Linked DNA regions of Homo sapiens: region 2 is linked to region 1. Evidence: fine-mapped QTL for protein levels in blood plasma. A gene starts in region 1. The other region holds a variant in brackets. All regions are shown on one strand. Distances are between the middles of the regions.

What was found. PIP is the chance, under the fine-mapping model, that this variant and not a neighbour inherited with it causes the effect. Protein levels are from the aptamer-based SomaScan assay of Sun 2018.
Region 2: its variant is fine-mapped to the plasma level of the EREG protein (Sun 2018, PIP 0.95). The variant lies in the coding sequence of EREG. If it changes the protein, the assay may bind it differently, which can mimic a change of level.

Annotation. Positions count from the first base shown.
Region 1 is chr4:74,360,881-74,371,737 of GRCh38, forward strand. EREG (epiregulin) reads left to right here and starts at 4,265. Exons shown (of 5, transcript NM_001432.3): 1 at 4,265-4,495. The coding sequence starts at 4,429. LOC105377276 (a long non-coding RNA gene) reads right to left here and starts at 4,461. Exons shown (of 3, transcript NR_188415.1): 1 at 4,271-4,461.
Region 2 is chr4:74,376,368-74,387,224 of GRCh38, forward strand. It overlaps EREG (epiregulin), which reads left to right. Exons shown (of 5, transcript NM_001432.3): 2 at 3,081-3,167; 3 at 4,647-4,770; 4 at 6,278-6,427; 5 at 8,360-10,857. The coding sequence ends at 8,441. Among named protein-coding and RNA genes, the nearest start is that of EREG, 17 kb to the left of the region's middle. The variant G/T (reference allele first, on the strand shown) is at 6,421.

The DNA of each region.
Region 1 (10,857 bases):
ATTTACTTTTTGAGTTCTTAAACCAATTCAAGAATGGATTAGTCCATAGGAAAAATATTTTTTAAAAAATCTATGATAAAAGCTATTTAAGTAAAATAGAGTATTACTACATCAATATATGTTTCTTCCTTTTCTCTATTTTGTCTCTAACTGGATTGTTTTTGGGGTTCAGAATTGCAACTTTCTCTATATCTACATATATTTCTGTAGAAATGCTATTACAGGCCGGGCATGGTGGCTCACGCCTGTGATCCCAGCACTTTGGGAGGCTGAGGCAGGTGGATCACCTGAGGTCAGGAGTTTGAGACCAGCCTGACTTACATGGTGAAATCCTGTCTCTACTAAAAATACAAAATTAGTTGGGTATCGGGGTGCATGCCTGTAATCCAAGCTACCCTAGAGGCTCAGGCAGGAGAATCACTTGAACCCAGGAGGCGGAGGTTGCAGTGAGCCAAGATCGTGCCATTGCACTCCAACCTGGGCAACAAGAATGAAACTCCGTCTCGAAAAAATATATATATCATAAAAGGCATAAATTTTTCATTTACATGGAGCTTGCTAAAAATATCCTGTATGATTAACATACAATTAAATTTATAATGTTAATTAAAAATTAGCATCTGCTAGAACAGAATTCATATTTAAGGTCTTTTTTATATTAAATGTAACAATTTGATCTTGAACACGTTCCTAAATTTTTCAAGTTCTTAATTGTAAAAAGGCAACCCAATACCATTTTATCTCAGTGGTTTTTGCTAAGGACTAAAAAACGACTTAAAACATTTTGTGTTATGTAAAAACTAATTCACTCAAGTAGCTATGCTCATTTTTTTAGTTAGAAAAGCAGTAATTTCATAATAAATAAGTGCCAGTTATAGTCAGAAGAAACAATAACCTGAGGGAAAGAGGAAGAGATGGAAGAATTGTAACGTGTTCTATGTCCTTGTCTGTTGCTAAATGCTGGTTCTATGGGTAGGGCCCAGGGCTTCATCTGAGTGCAGGCTACAATAGGTTTAATACTGATATCAGTTTGGGGCCTGTGTGTGTATGTCCCCAGTCTAGGATTTCCTAATTCTTCTCATGAGAGGACTCCCTTTTAATTTAAAAGGATTATTTTTTGCAAGACTCTTCTTCCCCATTTAACGGCGCTTATATGTTTGTTATATATCAACGAAAAAACACATGCCACAAAGCGTTTATGAATTCAATATCAATTTAAAATGAATACATGTTACTAATTACATAGAGACTTAATGTATGTTTAAAATAGTATATATATGTGTGTGTGTGTGTGTGTGTGTGTGTGTGTGTGCGCGCGCTTTAGTCTATAGATAATTCGATTTACCAACCCCTTGGAAAGGAATCCCAGTACATCTCAAACTGGGAATTGCTGACATTGCTGATGTATTAAAGTGACTTCCTAATTGGAAAATTCTATATGACCCGGTTATTTTCTTCCCAAACCATTCTATCTTTAAATAAGCTTTGTGCCTTTAAGAGGAATTATGATTATACCGCATACTATGTATATATATTTAAATGAACAATTAATGAAAATTGTTCCCAATTATTTAAAAAAAAAAAAGAAGAAGAATACTATTTTGCGGAGGCAGTGCGTGCAAATCCTCTGATGTGTCATGGTGGAGTCATTCTCAATATCTAATGGCTAGAAAATTGAGTAAACATAGAACTAATAAAGAAAAGATTTCTTCACATCATATAAAATCAGCCTACAAAAGAGTACATTGCTGTGGAAAATTTTGAGACAAGCACAGGGATTTTTTTCACAGTGATGATATCTCATGCTTGCAGGCATTAGTTACAAAGTTAAAAAATTCCTCTTCACATATCAATACCATAGAAGTGACTGTTGTCAATTATTGTCAGCATGACCCATTCTCCCCATCACATCCCCACCATCTTTCTTTTCAGCATAAAACACACTATATTTAAAGAAACAAGCCATTAATCAGGATTAAAAACTCTTCCTCTCACTCTTTGCAAGTACCTGATAGAAAATGCTCCCAGTTGACATTCCATTCGTTTGAATTCTGCTTCCATTCCTCAAAAACACTGGGACTATTTTTTTTTCCAGATCCAATTTGTAGGACAAAAGCCATTATATAACCATAAAAGTCACTTTACCTCTTTCTAATTTATGAAACTTGTGATCTCTACCAATGCTCCATAAAACTATAACCCATTTCTAATATCATTTTCCTTGGTTCCATTTCTTCTTTTCCAAAATAAGCTATTAAGTGAGAAGTCACTCAATGCCTGCTTTCTTGATAGATTTGGAAGCTAGACTTAGGAACCCAGCCTACCTCTATCCTACTGTTCATTGATTCATTTAACTTACAAATATTGACCAACTACCAAGTACCACCATCTTAAGCATCAACGTTTGCATATAATGGTAGGTATTTTTAGTGAGCACTAACTCGGTACTAGGCACTCTACTAAGCACTTTCATTATTTTCCTATGCGCTGGATACTATTATTATCCCTGTTTTACGTATGAGGAAATTGAGACAGATTAAATAACTTGTCCAGGAATTCACACACAGACAGTTTAAATCTTAACCCCTGATAACATGATGAAGTATTTGTTTCTTTTTTTTTTTTTTTTGAGACGGAGTTTCGCTCTGTCGCCCAGGCTGGAGTGCAGTGGCGCGATCTCGACTCACTGCAAGCTCCGCCTCCCGGGTTCACGCCATTCTCCTGCCTCAGCCTCCCGTGTAGCTGGGACTACAGGCGCGCGCCACCATGCCCGGCTAATTTTTGTATTTTTAGTAGAGACGGGGTTTCACTGTGTTATCCAGGATGGTCTCGATCTCCTGACCTCGTGATCCGCTCGTCTCGGCCTCCCAAAGTGCTGGGATTACAGGCGTGAGCCACCGCGCCCGGCCGAAGTATTTGTTTCTAACAAGAGCATTCTGGACATTAAAGGGCCTTAGAGTATGAGAGAAAAAAGCCAGAAAAAAAAAAGGAATAGTAATAATAATTTTTTAAAAAGTAGAAATAAAAAGGTAAGGAGTTAACATCCATTAGATTCCATTTTCTATTCAAATATGTATATTTACATACAGTACTGCTGAATTGACTCACAGTTCTTAGGTCCTATAGAGGAGTGCAGTGAAAAGGAAGACAATTTACACAGTACAGAGCTGAACATAGGACTTACAAACAAAAAAAAAGTCAAGGAATACAAAGTAGCTTTCCCAGGTGTAAAGTACCGGGTCTAGAATTCTATGAGGCTAGGGAGAAGATAAACGACAAAAGCTATAAGAGATCAGAATGAAAAGAGATCCACAAGCCTAAGAAGCCCAGGCCCTTGAGGAGAACCATGAATTTGAGCAGGATTTCACTAATTCCTTTAAAAAGTAGCCATTGCCTCAAAGTACGACTCCATCAGCATAGGCAGGAAAGTGGGAGTGAGGAAAGGCTTAGAGTTTTCCAGCCTGGCTGGGGTCAGACAATTTGCCTGGGGAAATAGTGGGAGCTGAGGTTGAAAAGACCGATTGGCTTCACGTTTGTGGCAGGCCTTGTCCAAAAAGCAATAGGAAGTCGTTGAAAGGTTTTGTGCAGGGGAGCGACAGGATTAAGGCACTACTTAGTAGGAAGTCATATCAAAAGCAGCAACCTGACAAATGGCAAATACGACAGAAGGAAAAAAAATAACAGGAATTTTCTTCACAATGACTCGACTTTGAGGTAATAAATGCCTGAGCCACATTGGAAGCAGGGGTCTCAGAAGGAAGGCGCAGATGGGAAAGGCTTTTCTGGGCGGTGGCGTTTCAATGCAAGGAGGGCGCTTGAATCACTGACAGACTTCAAGTTAAGGGAGTTTTCGTGGCTGAGGTTAGTAAGTCACACGCACAGCTCTCCAAAGGCATGTATGGGGAACGCCAGCCTTGGCTAAAAGACTGATTCAAGTTATGTCCGTCACCCTGAGCAACCAAAACCACCCACTACAGGGCAGGTGACCCCACAAAGCAAACCAAGCCATCTGGTCCACGCTCCCCACCTCCCGGAGGGAGATGGAAAAGTTTCGGGAGTAGTCCCCGGCCAATCGGAAAGACATTTTTTCATTCCTCAACCACTACTCTCAGGTGCTCCAGGGAGGGAGGATGACTTCCTGACGGTCCTCCTGCCGCTCCTCCCTCGGGCCAATTATGAAACTCTGGGCACTCTTGACCTCACCCCGTTAGGGCCCGGGAGGGGCTCCCTAGTATAAAGTTCGCAGCACCAGACAGTTGAGCTCACTTGCCTGATATTTCCAGTGTCAGAGGGACACAGCCAACGTGGGGTCCCTTCTAGGCTGACAGCCGCTCTCCAGCCACTGCCGCGAGCCCGTCTGCTCCCGCCCTGCCCGTGCACTCTCCGCAGCCGCCCTCCGCCAAGCCCCAGCGCCCGCTCCCATCGCCGATGACCGCGGGGAGGAGGATGGAGATGCTCTGTGCCGGCAGGGTCCCTGCGCTGCTGCTCTGCCTGGGTAAGTTCTCCCCCTCTGGCTTCCGGCCGCCCCAAAGAGGAGACAAATAAGGAAGGCTCCTGTGCATTTGTCATTCGACAAGTACGGAGTTGTCTCCAGGTTCAAGTGTGCTCTATTTAAAATTACGTCTTGTTTTGTGAGTCTGTCTTCCCCTATGGTGGGACTGGGGTGGGGGGGACTGGGGATCGATGTTAAAATGCTTTTTATTGGTGAATTAATTATTGGCATATATGTTATGCATGGATTGAAATATCTCCTTATTAAACAAAATAAAAAGTTGTTGAAAAAGCTTTTTTTTTTTTTTTGAAAAGTTGCCAGTCCTAGAAATCTAAAGGCCTGGAACGCACTGTTAACATTTCATGTCTTGTTCCTTTTTGTTGGAGAGTGGGGAATAGAAACTAGCGTAAGAAATTTTTTGGAGGGGGGAAAAAGCTTTTCTCCTCTGTCTTGCGCTCAGTTTTCTAAAACCTAGCCTGGTTTAGCTTTCCCGGAGGAGCTGGTATGCGCCAGTGCCAGTTGGCTGAGCTCCAGACACAAGAGAAATAAAACACTGGTCGAGGGTATCTGGAGCAGAAGGGCCCTGGGCAGGTCCTGGCGCTCCCCACCGCCCTTCGCCCCTACACCTGCTGCTTGCGTTTTTCCCTGCAGCCTCCCAAGCAGCCTCTGGAGCAAGCGTTCTGCACTTGCTGCTAATTGCACTCCATAGCCTGTGATCGCTGAGGGTATTTAAATGCCAGTCTTCCTATTTGAGATGATTTAGTTCAAGGGGAAAAATTTTCTAAATAGCCTTTCTGTTAAAAAAAAATTACTTCTTTCCAATTCCTTAAACTTCAGTTTAAGGAATTTGAAAGAGTTTGAAGTCGTATATGAATATCTTAATAAAAAAATAAAAGTTACCACCAGTCTCATATTCTCCCTGGAGTTGGAATGAGGCTGATTCCCCAGACACTCTAACTCTACCTGTGAAGGATGTGACTGTTAAATTATTATTTTGGCACACCTTATCTCAGGGGTTGAGAGACCTAATGAAATGCATACTATGCATAATTGAAACTTACAAGTCTAAGTCCAGGAACACAAGTGGAAACTAGATATGTGGTTTCTGCCAAAACTGAGCTAAGAAAGACTTGCTAGAAGATTCTCAGTAAACAATGTGGCTTTGCTGTCTTTGTTTTGAAAAGAATTAAATTAGAAAGGTGACAGTCTTCCTAGAGTTAGAAATTAACCTCGAGGTCAGAATAACTTAGCACTTATTATTTTCCCCACATGTAAGGTTGCATCTGAACAATGCACATGTCTGTTCTGGGTGTTTCATTGAATATTCTAATTTGAGACAGCCAGAGCCTGTGAATAACCTGGTTACTACCCACTAGTGTGTGTGTTGTGTGTGTGTTTGTTGTCATGAAAGTGCTTACCTCCTTCATTGCATTACTTAATTATAGTTCATCTATTTCGTCAGCTGCCAAGCCCATTTCCAAATGAGTTAGGTCAGTTTCTGTTTTCCCAGTTTGTTTGGATATTTCTCTGCCACTAGGAAAGTTCCTGTTTCAAGTTCTGTATTATATCTCTAAACTCTATTCAGTTATGCAGAGCCCATAGCCTTATTTTGGCAAGACCACCTGTTATTTCTGAAATTGCCTTCTTTCCCCCAAACAAAATATTTCCTAAAAATACTTTTCCCAAATCTTGTCCTTCCCCCAGCAAAAAAGAGCGAGACATTTATTTTAAATTTTAGCATACATGTTATAACTGCTTTATGTAGTTATGACTAGGGAATAAAGTTCCAGCCTCCACCCTTAACACATACAGATTTAAATTGCTATGCACAATCATTTGGTTACTTTTAAATTTTACACTTGTTTAATATTGAGGCTCTTGTTTTATAAATTGGGGAACTGTGACCCAAGTTCACATAGAAAAATAGTGACAAAGTGAGAGTCCACACTTGGGCTTGCTAGCATTTTTGGCCTACTGAACATTAAGTAGAAGAGTTGAAATACCGGATAACATTTTTTTAAATAATCTATAATTTTAGAGCAGAATTTTGTCTTTTTTATCTTGTGATTTTTCTAAAGAGAGGAGGATAAATTTTTATGTTGAATTCTGCAGTTATGTTCAGGGGCTTTCTATTTAACATCAAACATTTTTATTCATGCCTACATGGGTTTTTGAATATGTTCCTGAATGACATCTCCAAGATAATTTAGTCGTACTTCATCAATGAGAGAGAATTAAGCAGAAGAAATATTCTTTTTTGAAAATATGAGGAGCATAAATCTCAATGAGACAATAGGCTTGTCTTTGATCATTTCTGTTGACTCTGAGAGTTTATGAGTTACCTGAGTCTTGGCACAACCTGAGATGACAAATCTTGTCAGAAAACGTGATGACAGGCCTTTCCTGTCTGGATTTTGACCAGGTACCCTCACCACCTTCTGCACAGTCTTGCCATGTGAGCAGCTTGGGTAATTGGGGTGTCTGATTCAGCACTAAGACCCAAATCCAGGAGTTGAGAAGAAAACTAACAGTTACTAAATGCCTACTGTGTGGCAGCCATGTTGTGTATTAGGTGCTTTAAATACATCATCACCTCTACTTCTTAAAATAACTGTGTGAGGTAGATTTGATTAGCCCAGTGAAGTCAAGTACCTTACAAAGACTCAGAGATAGTAAATGGCCAGGTCACTCTGTGATAATGAGGAAAGAGCCAATGAGATTCAGGGTTAGCAGGAGCATAATAAACATAGCAGATTCTAATAGAGAAGTTCCAGAGTAGCTGGGGCTGCTCCAGGGTTCAGACCCTCTCATAGGCACAGCACATGTACAAATGGACTTTCTGACTCTGTGCAAAATCAGGCAAATAAAAGGTGACTATTCTCTTAAGCTGTGCTAAAATATGTTGAATTTTTACTTAATGTTCATAATTTCTAATCAACACAGTTCCCCTAAGATATGATTTTTATTATGAAGCAGTCATTGAAGTCAGTTGACTGGGGCCCTTATTTTTATATTTTCCAAGGTTTACATTAAGTAAAGCAATAAAGAGGGTAACTTATGTCTGTTTTATTCCTTGTATTCTTTGTATATTATTGTGAATTGGATATAGCATTGATAAGGGATCAACTTGGGATCTATAGCCCATTCCTGTTAACTGTGAGAACGTAAATGTATTTCCTTGGTTTAAAAAAAATAACAATACTCATATAATCACTTCGGAGAAACTGAATTTGAATGTTTTCTGTCTATTTTTGCAAAAGAATCTCCCATTTCCTGGTTAATGTTCACGTGAAAGATGCAAATGTCAAGTAAGAAATCCTCTTCAAAGAGAATGTAAATTAAGGTGGGGTTTCCTCATCTGTCAATCTTTACTTTGAGTGTAGGCCTGTACAAATCGTCTAATTAATATGGCTGTAACTGCTGCTGGGAACATTCCATCGGGAGACAATGAGAACACTTCCCAGTGGTGTAATAGAAGAGATCCTCAGGGAGGAGTAGTCTGACAGCCATTGCCTTGACATGGCAATTCTGGAACCTTTGAAAAAATGAAGTAATGCCACATACTCAGCGTCTTCTGGAGATGCAGTTTACCTAAGACTGGGTGTTTAGTTATAGGGCACATAAAGGTTGAGTGGCCTTCTAGGTTAAAGTAATGATTTAACTTACTAGGATACTATTTATAATACTCAGGATGATTTGATAATTGTCCAGAAAAAAATGGATTTTTTAATATATCTCATAAGACTCTTAATATATAGGTTTATCCTCCATCTCCTTTTTTAAAAATTTCAGTAGCATTTGGGGTACAATTGGTTTTTTGTTACGTGGGTGAATTCTATAGTGGTGAATTGTGAGATTTTAGTGCGCCTATCACCTGAGTAGTGTACATTGTACCTAATGTGTAGTTTTTTTTCAATCCCTAGCCCACCTTCCACCCTTCCCCTTCTGAGTCTCTAAAGTCCATTATATCACTCTGTATGCCTTTGTGTACTCATAGTACATAGTACATAGTACATAGTACTCATAGTACACATAGTACATGTATAAGTGAGAACATATGGTTTTTTGGTTTTCCACTCCTGTGTTACTTCACTTGGAATAATGGCCTCCAGCTCCATCCAATTTGCTGCGAAAGACATTATTTCATTCCTTTTAATGGCTGAGTAGTATTCCATGGATATATGGATGTATTCCATGGAGATATATGTAATATTCAGAAAGAAAAGTATTAAACATTAATCTTTTAGGTTAAAAATTCTCAATTTTAAATTTGAGGCATGAAAGTGATTGATACGTGCACACACACACACATCTTTATATATGTAAGTTTTATAGTCTTGAACTAAGAGGCATAGTGTATAGTGTATAAAATACAGATTTCATGCACCAGTTTTTTCTTTCATACTTTCAGAAAGAGTGATTTATCTCTGAGCCTCAGTTTTCTCATCCGAAAAAAAAAAGGTTGTCCACAATAACCTTGTCAGGTAATTGTATGTAGATTTAATGGATAAGATGATACATGAATTCATAGAAAGCACTTTTAAAATTAGAGCTGTCATCATAAAAATGGTTTCTTACAAAAAAAAAAGCCTCATTTAGTTCTTAGGATGCCTTTTTAGCCCAGAAAGTTGTTATTGTTCCCGTTTTACAAATGAGGAAACAGGAGTACACAGCATGTAAGGCTTTGGGTTTGAATACGCTTGTATCCTTTACTGTCAATGCCCTCAAGTCACTCTTTACTTTTGGTGAAAGTACTCATCCTTTAAGACTGAAAAAGGAGCCACTTCCTTAGGCACTTCTCTGATAAGCCCTGACCCTCCTCCATTGCACCTTTCCCATTCCTTTTGTCCTATGGCCCTGTCACACCACACATCACACTGTAAGTGTGTGTATAACTCTATCCCTCCTTGCTGGTGCTATAGTCATCTTTTATCATTTCTATTGTGATAGGCTTATATTAAACACAATTAATATTTGCTAGATGGATGATCACATTGATACTTTATTTGGAGTTATCACCACTATGTTATAGACTCAATTAGCTGCACTTTAAAAATGTATTTAAAAATATTAAAAAAGATATTTTGAGAAGCAAAATACCTAGAGGTTAAGTAACAGTTTTGGAAAATTCAATTCTGTTGTTGTTTCTGATGAAGTCTAATAAGTTTTCTTCTCTCTCTTTCACATTTTTATCTCTTATTATATTATTATATTATTCAGTATTAACTGAAGATATTTGTGTGTGTGTGTGTGTGAGAGAGAGAGATAGAGAGAGAGAGACAGAAAGAGAGGAAGAGAGGAAGAGAGAGGGGTTACTGAGCTATGATATGACTGAATAAAGTGGCAGTGATATGACTGCCAGTGGCAGAAAGAGAAGCATTGTTTTAGAAATTAAAGAAACCTTAGAGAAATCTAATCCAAACTTCATTTCACCCTCTACCCCACCTCATTCCTTGTTCTCTGTTTTCAGAGATAAGGCAGCTCAGTTGCAGGGAAACAAAATAAGTATGTGAGCTAGAACTGGATTCCATTTCTCATGAGTCTAATGCAGGGTTTTTCAACCTTGTCTCAGTTGACATTAGGGACTAAATAATTCTTTGTTGCAGGGAGGCTGTCCTATGCATTGCAGGGTGTTTAGCAGCAACCCTGGTCTCTACCCACTAGATGTCAGTAGCATCCCCAGTCGTGACAACCATCATAGTCTCCAGACATTACCATATGGTAGCAATGGTCCCCAGGAGCAATTTTGCCAATGAGGGATACAATTTTGCCAACCTTGGTTGGCAATTTTGCTCCTGGTTTAGAACCAATAACATAAAATATACTTTTTTTTAATTGCTGTTACACATTGCCACCCATACTTCACAGTTTGGAAAATTAGTGCTTGAGTTACCAAGACAAAATTAATTTTAATGATAATCTGGATACAAATATAAAGCCCATTCTCATGTTTAAAAAATCAGCTTGGCAATATTTATTGCTGATTTTAGCACCGTTCACATCTAATAATGATGAGTCTTATTTACGATGGAATCATGAATACTGTCTCTGATTATTCCTTTGATAACCACCCTTTACTTCCTTTTACAACTCTACTCTCTTAGCTCTCAGCAAACTTAATTTTCTTTTTTCTCTAATTTCTTTTTCTCTTTTCTTTGCCACTTCTGTCTGCTCTCTACCACCTGTTTCTCAAAGTTCTGTTATTTTCCAGTTCATACTGTTTTCCTTGGAACATATAAATGTCTTCCATTCCTTTAAAGGCAGTATCTCCTCATATGACTTTCAAATAGACTTCTCCTAATCTCCAAATAAATTCTTATTCCTTTACTGTATTCCCAACAGCCTCAAAAATATAAATAGGTAAT
Region 2 (10,857 bases), 15 kb after region 1:
GGAATAGGAATGTCAAGGATGTAAGCACGTGCAACTAAAACTCCAATTTGTACCGAGGAAACTGTATTAGTTAAAGGATTTCATTCTTCAGTAGTGAAAGTATGGTGAAATTATTATTGGGATATAAAACAAAATTGACTTGAATGAGAATCTAGCTTATCCTCCATAAAAAGCTTAGTGAAATAGTTTTCAACTCTGTTCAACTGACAATGAAATCTAGGCTTTAGCTATTTCTTTGTCATTCAACAAAAATATATTTTTTGTAGTTCCACAAGAGCAATTGAAGCAGCATTTATATTGTAGAAAAAGCATGGAGTGGGGAGGGGATAATTCTGAACTTTAAAGACAACAGAATTTTCAAATTGTTGAAGAACAGGAGACTTGATTTCAAAAGATAAATTTGTAACTCTTCTCTTCTGTGGTCACAAGTGATCTTAGACAAGACATTTAATTTAAATACACTGAGGGTATTTGAGACTAATAACTACTTCACAGAATTAAGTGTGAAATTTGATATATGAAGTTATACATTATGATGCTGATGCCGATGTGTAATTTACTTTTCAGAACCCAAAAATATACAATCGGCTTAACAGATACAAGCCTTCTCTAACTGAGAAAAAATAAAATTCTTGTATTACACGAATTAAATCTTTCTTTACAGTACCAAATTACAGAGATAGACAAACTTGTTATAAACCAGAAGAGGGCACTGTCCACATACACTGCTAAAACCAGAGGCTAGAAGTTGAGAGTCAAGGAACATTTATGGGCTGTGACAGCCATTTCAGAAAAAAAAAAAAAAAAACATTAGTTTATTTCACTGTATTCTCCCCAAAAATCTATAAGATAGGAAAAATTAACACCCAGAAAAGTAAATTAATTTTTTTTCAAGATCACGTAGCTCAAGTTTTCCTCACAAGACTGCCTTTCCACCATAATTTGTGGCCTCTATGTTGGGTTAAATACTCTACTTCAATTACAGCTATCATAATTTGTTCTCTGTGATGTCCATTATACTCTAGTATTATTGCCTATTTCCAAATTCTATAAAGTGGCCCATTTAACAATATGTATCCTTGGGAAAAGTTATTTAAACTCTTTATGCTTTAGTTTTCTCTAATGGGGATAATAATAGTATCTTCCTCAAATTGGCCCTGAGAGGACTAAATAATATAATACAGATAAGGTGAATAGGACCATACCTGGTTGTATTAGTTTGTTTTCACACTATTATAAAGGACTTCCCTGAGACTGGGTAATTTATAAAGGAAAGAACTTTAATTGACTCACAGTTCTATATGGCTGGGGAAGTCTCAGGAAACTTATCATGGCCGAAGGCGAAGGGGAAGCAAGCCCCTTTTTCACAAGGTGGCAGGAGAGAGAGGCGGGAAGGAGGAACTTCCAAACACTTATAAAACCATCAGATCTCATGAGAACTCACTCACTATCCTGAGAACAGCATGCAGGAAACTACCCGCATTGATTCAATCACCTCCCTCCTTGGACACATGGGGATTACGGGTCCCTCTCTCAATACATGGGGATTGCAATTCCAGATGAGATGTGGGTGGGGACACAGAGCCAAACTATATCACTGGTACATAGTACATGTTCAAGAGATGGATCGTCCTCTGTCTGAACTGTGAAAGAAATGGAAAGTTGAATATATTTTGTTGCCTTTATGGAGGCATTAATCATCCTTTCATAACAGTTACCACTTACTTAGCTACTTCAACGAAACAGGTTGATTCAAACTCTTCCTGTGCTTACAGAAACTGGATTCTCAGTGTGGTTCATCTGGCATGCCTATTCCTTCTCATATTAGATAGGATATATTCTGATTTTACCTAGATTACATTTACCTAGCTGCCTATCAGTCAAGGAGAATTTTCAGGAGTAGGAAGTCATTCTAGTTATCACGCACCCTAGGCCAATAAGCACCGGAATCCAAACGAAAATGTCCAACCGACTAAACAAAATCACATAGGAGGTATTTATTCTCAAAAGACAACCTTTAGGGTGTAGAAAAAGCAAGCTTAACACACATGTCATTATCCCCCACGGTAGGTATTATTCATTTCTTCAAACAAAATATGTCTAATTTTTTTCAAATCTCAGTTCTGAAATTCGTTATTCCCCAAAGCAATTGCAAGCTGAAGCCATTAATTAATTTAGTGGAGCTTAATTGCTGCTACTACTACTACTACCACCACCATTAGTATTTACTATATAACAGTTACTTAAATAAATTGGAAAGAGTGTTTGAAGTGCAAATACCTAAAGCTTAAACAGAAGCAGCTAAAGCTCTTAACTAAACATCTGTGAAATTACAAGGGTTCTTCTTATGATGATTCCTACACAATTCAGAAAGTACTTGAGTCATTCTTGATATCTATGTTCCAAAATTTTATCTTTTCACTGAATACACATGATGAAACAGCTGATTCAGACTCTTCCTATGCTGATAGAAACTGGATTCTAGGGCTCAGTATGGTTCATCTGGGATGCCTGTTCCTCCTCATATTAGACAAGATATATTCTGATTTTACCTAGCTTTCACTGTATTAATTAAAATCTATACTCATGTGTAATGCAATGCAAAGAGTAACTTAGGTACATAAATCAATAATGAATGTTTCTTAGGTTGAGTTTCTTGTTGTTACTGTAAGTGGAAACCGATTTTTTATTTAGAGCCTTTTTTTGTGATGGGGTCTGATTAGGAGCATTTCTCTGAACACATGATGGAATAAAACAGTGGAAATTCTCCAACTGATGTGCGTCTTAAGAAATCAAACTTCAAAATCAAATCTTTGAAAATGTTACTGTGAAATATTTAGAGCAGGTCAAATCTGTAACCGTGAATGTAATGCCAAGGCTTTTATCCTTCCACAGAATAGCTGGGGGAGTTTGTATTTTCTGTTACATGCCTGTTTCCATGAATTATTTTGTTTTATGGTTTTGATGGACCAAATCTGTGAAACAAAACAACTCTATAAGTACTGCAGTTATGTAGAAATTTGATCAAGATTTCTTTCCTTAACACATTAGTTATATATTCGATTTTTCTTCATAAATAGGTTTCCATCTTCTACAGGCAGTCCTCAGTACAACTGTGATTCCATCATGTATCCCAGGAGAGTCCAGTGATAACTGCACAGCTTTAGGTAAGCCCAAGTTTGTCAATGTGGCATCAAGAGACTACATATTTTTAAACAGAAATATAAACTCAAAGACTATAAGTATGTGATAATTTTTTAAAAAAGGGTAAGAATAGCTGCTATATTACTTTTTAAATCACCATATAAACTAATGTTCTGAAAAAATTATATAAAGGAATAACTGGTAGGAGAGGGACCGGATAAATTATATACACAGATTTGATTGTGAAGAGATAGGGAACAACAACAACAAAAAATTGCATTCCCTTTGGCCGTCTCCTGGCACTTTACTGCGAAACATCCTCAGAGACCACACTGACTGGATTCCAGGCAAAACAGCAAAACAGGAAAACTTTGTACAGAATAGGTTCTCTATCTCTCTCTTTCTACCCCTCTCTCTCTCTTTGTAAGAAGAACAAATGATAGTCGTTTCTTTCTAGGCACAGTGTTCATTCAGAAAACATTTATCGAGTATGTAGTATGCACCAAACGCTGTGCTAAGGCATACAGATACAAAGATAAGTAATACAGTTTTTTCCCCTCGAGGACTGTGGACTCCAGATATGGTCCAAGGGGGATCAGCTTTATCTTCATTCTGAGTTATTGAATCAAGATAACTGAGTTATTTTGAGGAAGCAGGATATTTTCCATAACAACTTTATCTTTTGTCCCTCACCATCAGGTTCTCTGGAGGTTTGGTCAGCCTCCTCCGCAGGTTTGGTCAGCCTCCTCCGCATCATCTTTTTTTTTTTCCTTCTTTGGTTATTTGGGCAAGAGTATTACAATCAAATTGCTATTTTAAAAGTAATTTTATAAGCATCTTTCACATTTTGGTATCTAAAGCTTTCTAAAGTGAATTTTACACAAAGGCTCCTATTTTCATTGCTGTTATTTGTCTACCAGAGGCCTTTCTCACTCAGGGTTTGTCTAGTTTGGATTCAGGCCTCATTATCAGAGATATTGGGAGACTGGTTAATTTCATTAATGGTAACCTCAGCAACTTGAAAACATACACCAAAGCCAGCCTTACTGATTAAAAATCCACTGTAGAATTAAGCTCCTTTGAATTAATTAATGGTATGAGCTTGCAACTGCTTTGGGGAGTAATAGATTTCAGAAATGTTTTGGGACTTGAGAAAAATTAGACAAATTTTGCTTGAAGAAATAACACCCACTTGGAGGATAATGACACCTGTGTGTTAAATTTGCCTTCTCTACCCTTACAGGTTGTCTTTTGAGAATGAAATCCTTTCATGTTATCTTCTTTTGTTTAGTCTGTTGGACATTTTCCTTTGGATTCAAGTGTTTATTGATTGGTCTAGGGGGTGTGACAACTAGAGTGACTTCCTACTTCTCAAAATTCTCCTTGACAGATTGGCATCTGACTTGTTGTGTAGAAGTAGTTCAGTGGTTACTGTTATGAAAGAGTGAGAAATTCTTCCATGAAGGCTGCAGAATATATTCAACTTTCCACTTCTTTTACAGTTCAGACAGAAGACAATCCACGTGTGGCTCAAGTGTCAATAACAAAGTGTAGCTCTGACATGAATGGCTATTGTTTGCATGGACAGTGCATCTATCTGGTGGACATGAGTCAAAACTACTGCAGGTAATATGTCAGAAATAAACAAACACAGTTTGTAAAATTTTGTTTTATAGATTTAGGGGTACAAGTGCAGATTTGCTAGTGGATATATTCAGTAGTGGTGAAGTCTGAGCTTTTAGAGTACCTACCCCTCAAATAGTGTGCATGGAACCCATTAGGTAATTTTTCATCCCTTAACCCCCCCAAAACTCTTCTACCTTTTGAAGTCTCCAGAGTCTATTACTCCACTCTCTATGACCATGTGTACACATTATTTAGCTCCCACTTGTGAGAACATGTGATAAACAAATGCAGTTTTACTCTTTGTATTTCTATTTTTATATTTTGAAATTACCCTATATTTCCATGGGCTGTTAAATGCAGTATATATATTATTAGAAACTTTTCTGAGTTTTTAAAAATTAGGTAGTAAATAGTAGCTTTTAAATTGCACACATATGTCAGAGGTGCAGAGCAGGGAGGACTTCTGATGCTTCTCACACTTGCCAAGATGGTGTCTCTCTGCTTTGGATCTTTTCCTTCAATTTCTATATCAGGTATTGTTTTAAGAATTGATTCCAGGCCGGACGCGTTGGCTCATGCCTGTAATCCCAGCACTTTGGGAGGCCGAGGCGGGCGGATCACGGGGTCAGGAGATCAAGACCATCCTGGCGAACACGGTGAAACCCCGTCTCTACTAAAAATACAAAAAAAAAAAAAAATTAGCCAGGGGTAGTGGCGGACGCCTGAAGTCCCAGCTACTCGGGAGGCTGAGGCAGGAGAATGGCATGAACCCGGGGGGTGGAGCTTGCAGTGAGCGGAGATCATGCCACTGTACTCCAGCCTGGGCAACACAGCGAGACTCCGTCTCAAAAAAAAAAAAAAAAAAAAAAAAAAGAATTGATTCCAGGCCAGGCGCAGTGGCTCAACCCTGTAACCCCAGCACTTTGGGAGGCTGAGGCGGGCAGACCACTTGAGGTCAGGAGTTCCTGACCAGCCTGGCCAACATGGTGAAACCCCGCCTCTACTAAAAATACAAAAATTAGCGAGGCGTGGTGGCGCAAGACTGTAGTCTACTCAGGAGGCTGAGATAGGAGAATTGCTTGAACCTGGGAGGCGGAGGTTGCAGTGAGCCGAGAGATCACACCACTGCTATCCAGCCTGGGCGACAGAACGAGACTCCATCTCAAAAAAACCAAACAGACAAACAAACAAAAAAAGAATTGATTCCACTGATTTAGACAAAAGGAATCTCAAACCTGTACAACTTACAAAACACCACTGTGGACTGTCAGCCACCATGACAGCTGAACACAACCGTCATTTTAATACTACAATTTAGTCCAAGAGCTACGTGGAGCCCTTTTATCATTACTGGTCTAACTCAATCTTTGAAATCCTCTTTACAATCTTTAGCAAATTTTGTTGATTTCTTGCATTACAGTGTGATGTTAGTCCTTATAAAACTAATTCATAACCATGATTTCCTTTTTAAGTAACTGATCTTTCTTTCTTCCGTATTTTCCTTCAGGTGTGAAGTGGGTTATACTGGTGTCCGATGTGAACACTTCTTTTTAACCGTCCACCAACCTTTAAGCAAAGAATATGTGGCTTTGACCGTGATTCTTATTATTTTGTTTCTTATCACAGTCGTCGGTTCCACATATTATTTCT[G/T]CAGATGGTAAGTCAGTGTGGTTTTATACTCTGCTTTTACAAATTACTTTTACATAATGCAGACCTATAAACTGGGTAAAAATATGGATAAAGTATTAGAGAGATAAGATCAAACCTGTACAAATGATATTTACAAGAGTTGAGAAACTATTAAGTATTATGCCCAACACCTGAGTGATGGGATCAGCTGTACCCCTAATCTCAGCATCATACAATATATCCTGTTAAGAAACCTGCATGTGTACCCCCGAATCTGAAATAACTTGAAATTATTTTTTAAAAATATGTTTTTGCTGCAGAACATCTGGATTGAACTTTATTATCAGCTCTGATACTTATTACCTATGTGACCTTACATAAGTCAAATTGAGAGTATCAATTCCCTTCTTTATCAAATATGGACAGAAATTATTATCTTACATTAGTTATAGGGTGGTTGCTTTTAGTATGTAATATGATATTTCATGTGAAAGTAAATCATAGGATAGGTGCTACTGTTATAGTTAACCACCTGAATTTAATTCCTCAAGTCACATTTTTTATTTTATAAAAAACAACCTTGTAAATTAATAACCTTAGAAGCTTGGGTTATCTTACAGTTTAAGGCAGACTGGTGGAACTATTTCTAGACAATTATAAAAAATGGTTGTTAAAAAATAGTTTGTGTCAGTCCCCCAAAACAGTCGTACCTCATCCTCATGTGCATTATTGTCACAAGCTGAAAACAGAAAAATAGAAAGTGAACATTGAAAGTATAGTTTGGCATTTTTTTAAGGGTTAGGAGCAAAGGATGGGAACAGTGTGAATTAATTAATAACAGTTCCCTTTAAAATGTCTCCATGAAACATATTTTGAAACAGTTACAAATTACTCAAGGTGAATTTACGTTTTTATTTTTCTGTGAAAGTAGTGCACTTCCAATTTTGAAGGTCTGAAAGTGTGCTACTTTCATAATATTAAATTTATTTTGTCCACATTTGATTCTAAGTATCCATCAAATAATAATGCCTTCCTAATAAGTTGCCATGACAGAACTAAATATTATTAAAACTGAAATATGCCTGCAAATCTTTGACCACAATCCTTTCCTTTATAGATGGGGCACTGAGGTTTAGAGAGGTTCATTCAAATATCCCAGCTCATATAGTTGACAAATGCCAGAGTGAAGAACAAATTCTTTCTAATTCATATTCTTACAGTAAACATAGACATGATGTGGTTTCCTCAAAGCTACATGTCTTATTTCCAAAATAGGGACAAAATAAACTCAAAAATATTAGGAAAATAGCTTAATGAATAAATGAAAGAAGATTCTAAATTATGATAAATCTATGAATCCTAGCTATGAGACCTTGGACCTTGGGCACATTATATACAACCCATTTGTATTTCACTTTCTTCATCTGTAAGATGAGGATGGTAACAGCAAATGTGAGAGTAAAATAAATAATGCATGTATAGCACTTAGAAAATTGTAGGTCACCAAATTAGTGCCTGATAAATATTATTTTTATTTTGATTAGTGATAGCATTATATCAATGTGATGGAAAGAGTGTATTAATGTAGCATGATTTGTAAATATTCATTCCTTAGAAGGGAGGAAGGAAAAAGAAAGAGAGACAGAAAAAGAAAACCTAAAATTCAGACTTAAATGTGGCCACACGCCTCTTGGAATTTCACAATATTCATGATCACGTTAAAGACTTTGAGAAACTCTTTAAGTGTATTTTATCATTTCATTCCAAAATTGTTTGACTACAGCACATCACCTCTTCATCCCTCTTTTTTTTTTTTTTTTTAACATTGTCCAACCTAAATCTGTTCAACTTTGTCATTTTGGAAACACTATGCTAATGTGCCTTTGGAGTCCATATATAACACACTTGTTCCTTTGCTATTAACTGCAGTGCTAACAGTTTCGTTTGTGAATATTTCCAGGTACAGAAATCGAAAAAGTAAAGAACCAAAGAAGGAATATGAGAGAGTTACCTCAGGGGATCCAGAGTTGCCGCAAGTCTGAATGGCGCCATCAAACTTATGGGCAGGGATAACAGTGTGCCTGGTTAATATTAATATTCCCATTTTATTAATAATATTTATGTTGGGTCAAGTGTTAGGTCAATAACACTGTATTTTAATGTACTTGAAAAATGTTTTTATTTTTGTTTTATTTTTGACAGACTATTTGCTAATGTATAATGTGCAGAAAATATTTAATATCAAAAGAAAATTGATATTTTTATACAAGTAATTTCCTGAGCTAAATGCTTCATTGAAAGCTTCAAAGTTTATATGCCTGGTGCACAGTGCTTAGAAGTAAGCAATTCCCAGGTCATAGCTCAAGAATTGTTAGCAAATGACAGATTTCTGTAAGCCTATATATATAGTCAAATCGATTTAGTAAGTATGTTTTTTATGTTCCTCAAATCAGTGATAATTGGTTTGACTGTACCATGGTTTGATATGTAGTTGGCACCATGGTATCATATATTAAAACAATAATGCAATTAGAATTTGGGAGAAGCAAATATAGGTCCTGTGTTAAACACTACACATTTGAAACAAGCTAACCCTGGGGAGTCTATGGTCTCTTCACTCAGGTCTCAGCTATAATTCTGTTATATGAGGGGCAGTGGACAGTTCCCTATGCCAACTCACGACTCCTACAGGTACTAGTCACTCATCTACCAGATTCTGCCTATGTAAAATGAATTGAAAAACAATTTTCTGTAATCTTTTATTTAAGTAGTGGGCATTTCATAGCTTCACAATGTTCCTTTTTTGTATATTACAACATTTATGTGAGGTAATTATTGCTCAACAGACAATTAGAAAAAAGTCCACACTTGAAGCCTAAATTTGTGCTTTTTAAGAATATTTTTAGACTATTTCTTTTTATAGGGGCTTTGCTGAATTCTAACATTAAATCACAGCCCAAAATTTGATGGACTAATTATTATTTTAAAATATATGAAGACAATAATTCTACATGTTGTCTTAAGATGGAAATACAGTTATTTCATCTTTTATTCAAGGAAGTTTTAACTTTAATACAGCTCAGTAAATGGCTTCTTCTAGAATGTAAAGTTATGTATTTAAAGTTGTATCTTGACACAGGAAATGGGAAAAAACTTAAAAATTAATATGGTGTATTTTTCCAAATGAAAAATCTCAATTGAAAGCTTTTAAAATGTAGAAACTTAAACACACCTTCCTGTGGAGGCTGAGATGAAAACTAGGGCTCATTTTCCTGACATTTGTTTATTTTTTGGAAGAGACAAAGATTTCTTCTGCACTCTGAGCCCATAGGTCTCAGAGAGTTAATAGGAGTATTTTTGGGCTATTGCATAAGGAGCCACTGCTGCCACCACTTTTGGATTTTATGGGAGGCTCCTTCATCGAATGCTAAACCTTTGAGTAGAGTCTCCCTGGATCACATACCAGGTCAGGGAGGATCTGTTCTTCCTCTACGTTTATCCTGGCATGTGCTAGGGTAAACGAAGGCATAATAAGCCATGGCTGACCTCTGGAGCACCAGGTGCCAGGACTTGTCTCCATGTGTATCCATGCATTATATACCCTGGTGCAATCACACGACTGTCATCTAAAGTCCTGGCCCTGGCCCTTACTATTAGGAAAATAAACAGACAAAAACAAGTAAATATATATGGTCATATACATATTGTATATATATTCATATACAAACATGTATGTATACATGACCTTAATGGATCATAGAATTGCAGTCATTTGGTGCTCTGCTAACCATTTATATAAAACTTAAAAACAAGAGAAAAGAAAAATCAATTAGATCTAAACAGTTATTTCTGTTTCCTATTTAATACAGCTGAAGTCAAAATATGTAAGAACACATTTTAAATACTCTACTTACAGTTGGCCCTCTGTGGTTAGTTCCACATCTGTGGATTCAACCAACCAAGGACGGAAAATGCTTAAAAAATAATACAACAACAACAAAAAATACATTATAACAACTATTTACTTTTTTTTTTTTCTTTTTGAGATGGAGTCTCGCTCTGTTGCCCAGGTTGGAGTGCAGTGGCACGATCTCGGCTCACTGCAACCTCACCTCCCGGGTTCAAGAGATCCTCCTGCCTCAGCCTCCTGAGCAGCTGGGACTACAGGCGCATGCCACCATGCCCAGCTAATTTTTGTATTTTTAGTAGAGGCGGGGTTTCACCATGTTGGCCAGGATGGTCTCAATCTCCTAACCTTGAGATCCACCCTCCACAGCCTCCCAAACTGCTGGGATTACAGGTGTGAGCCACCGCACGTAGCATTTACATTAGGTATTACAAGTAATGTAAAGATGATTTAAGTATACAGGAGGATGTGAATAGGTTATATGCAAGCACTATGCCCTTTTATATAAGTGACTTGAACATCTGTGCCCGATTTTAGTATGTGCAGGGGGG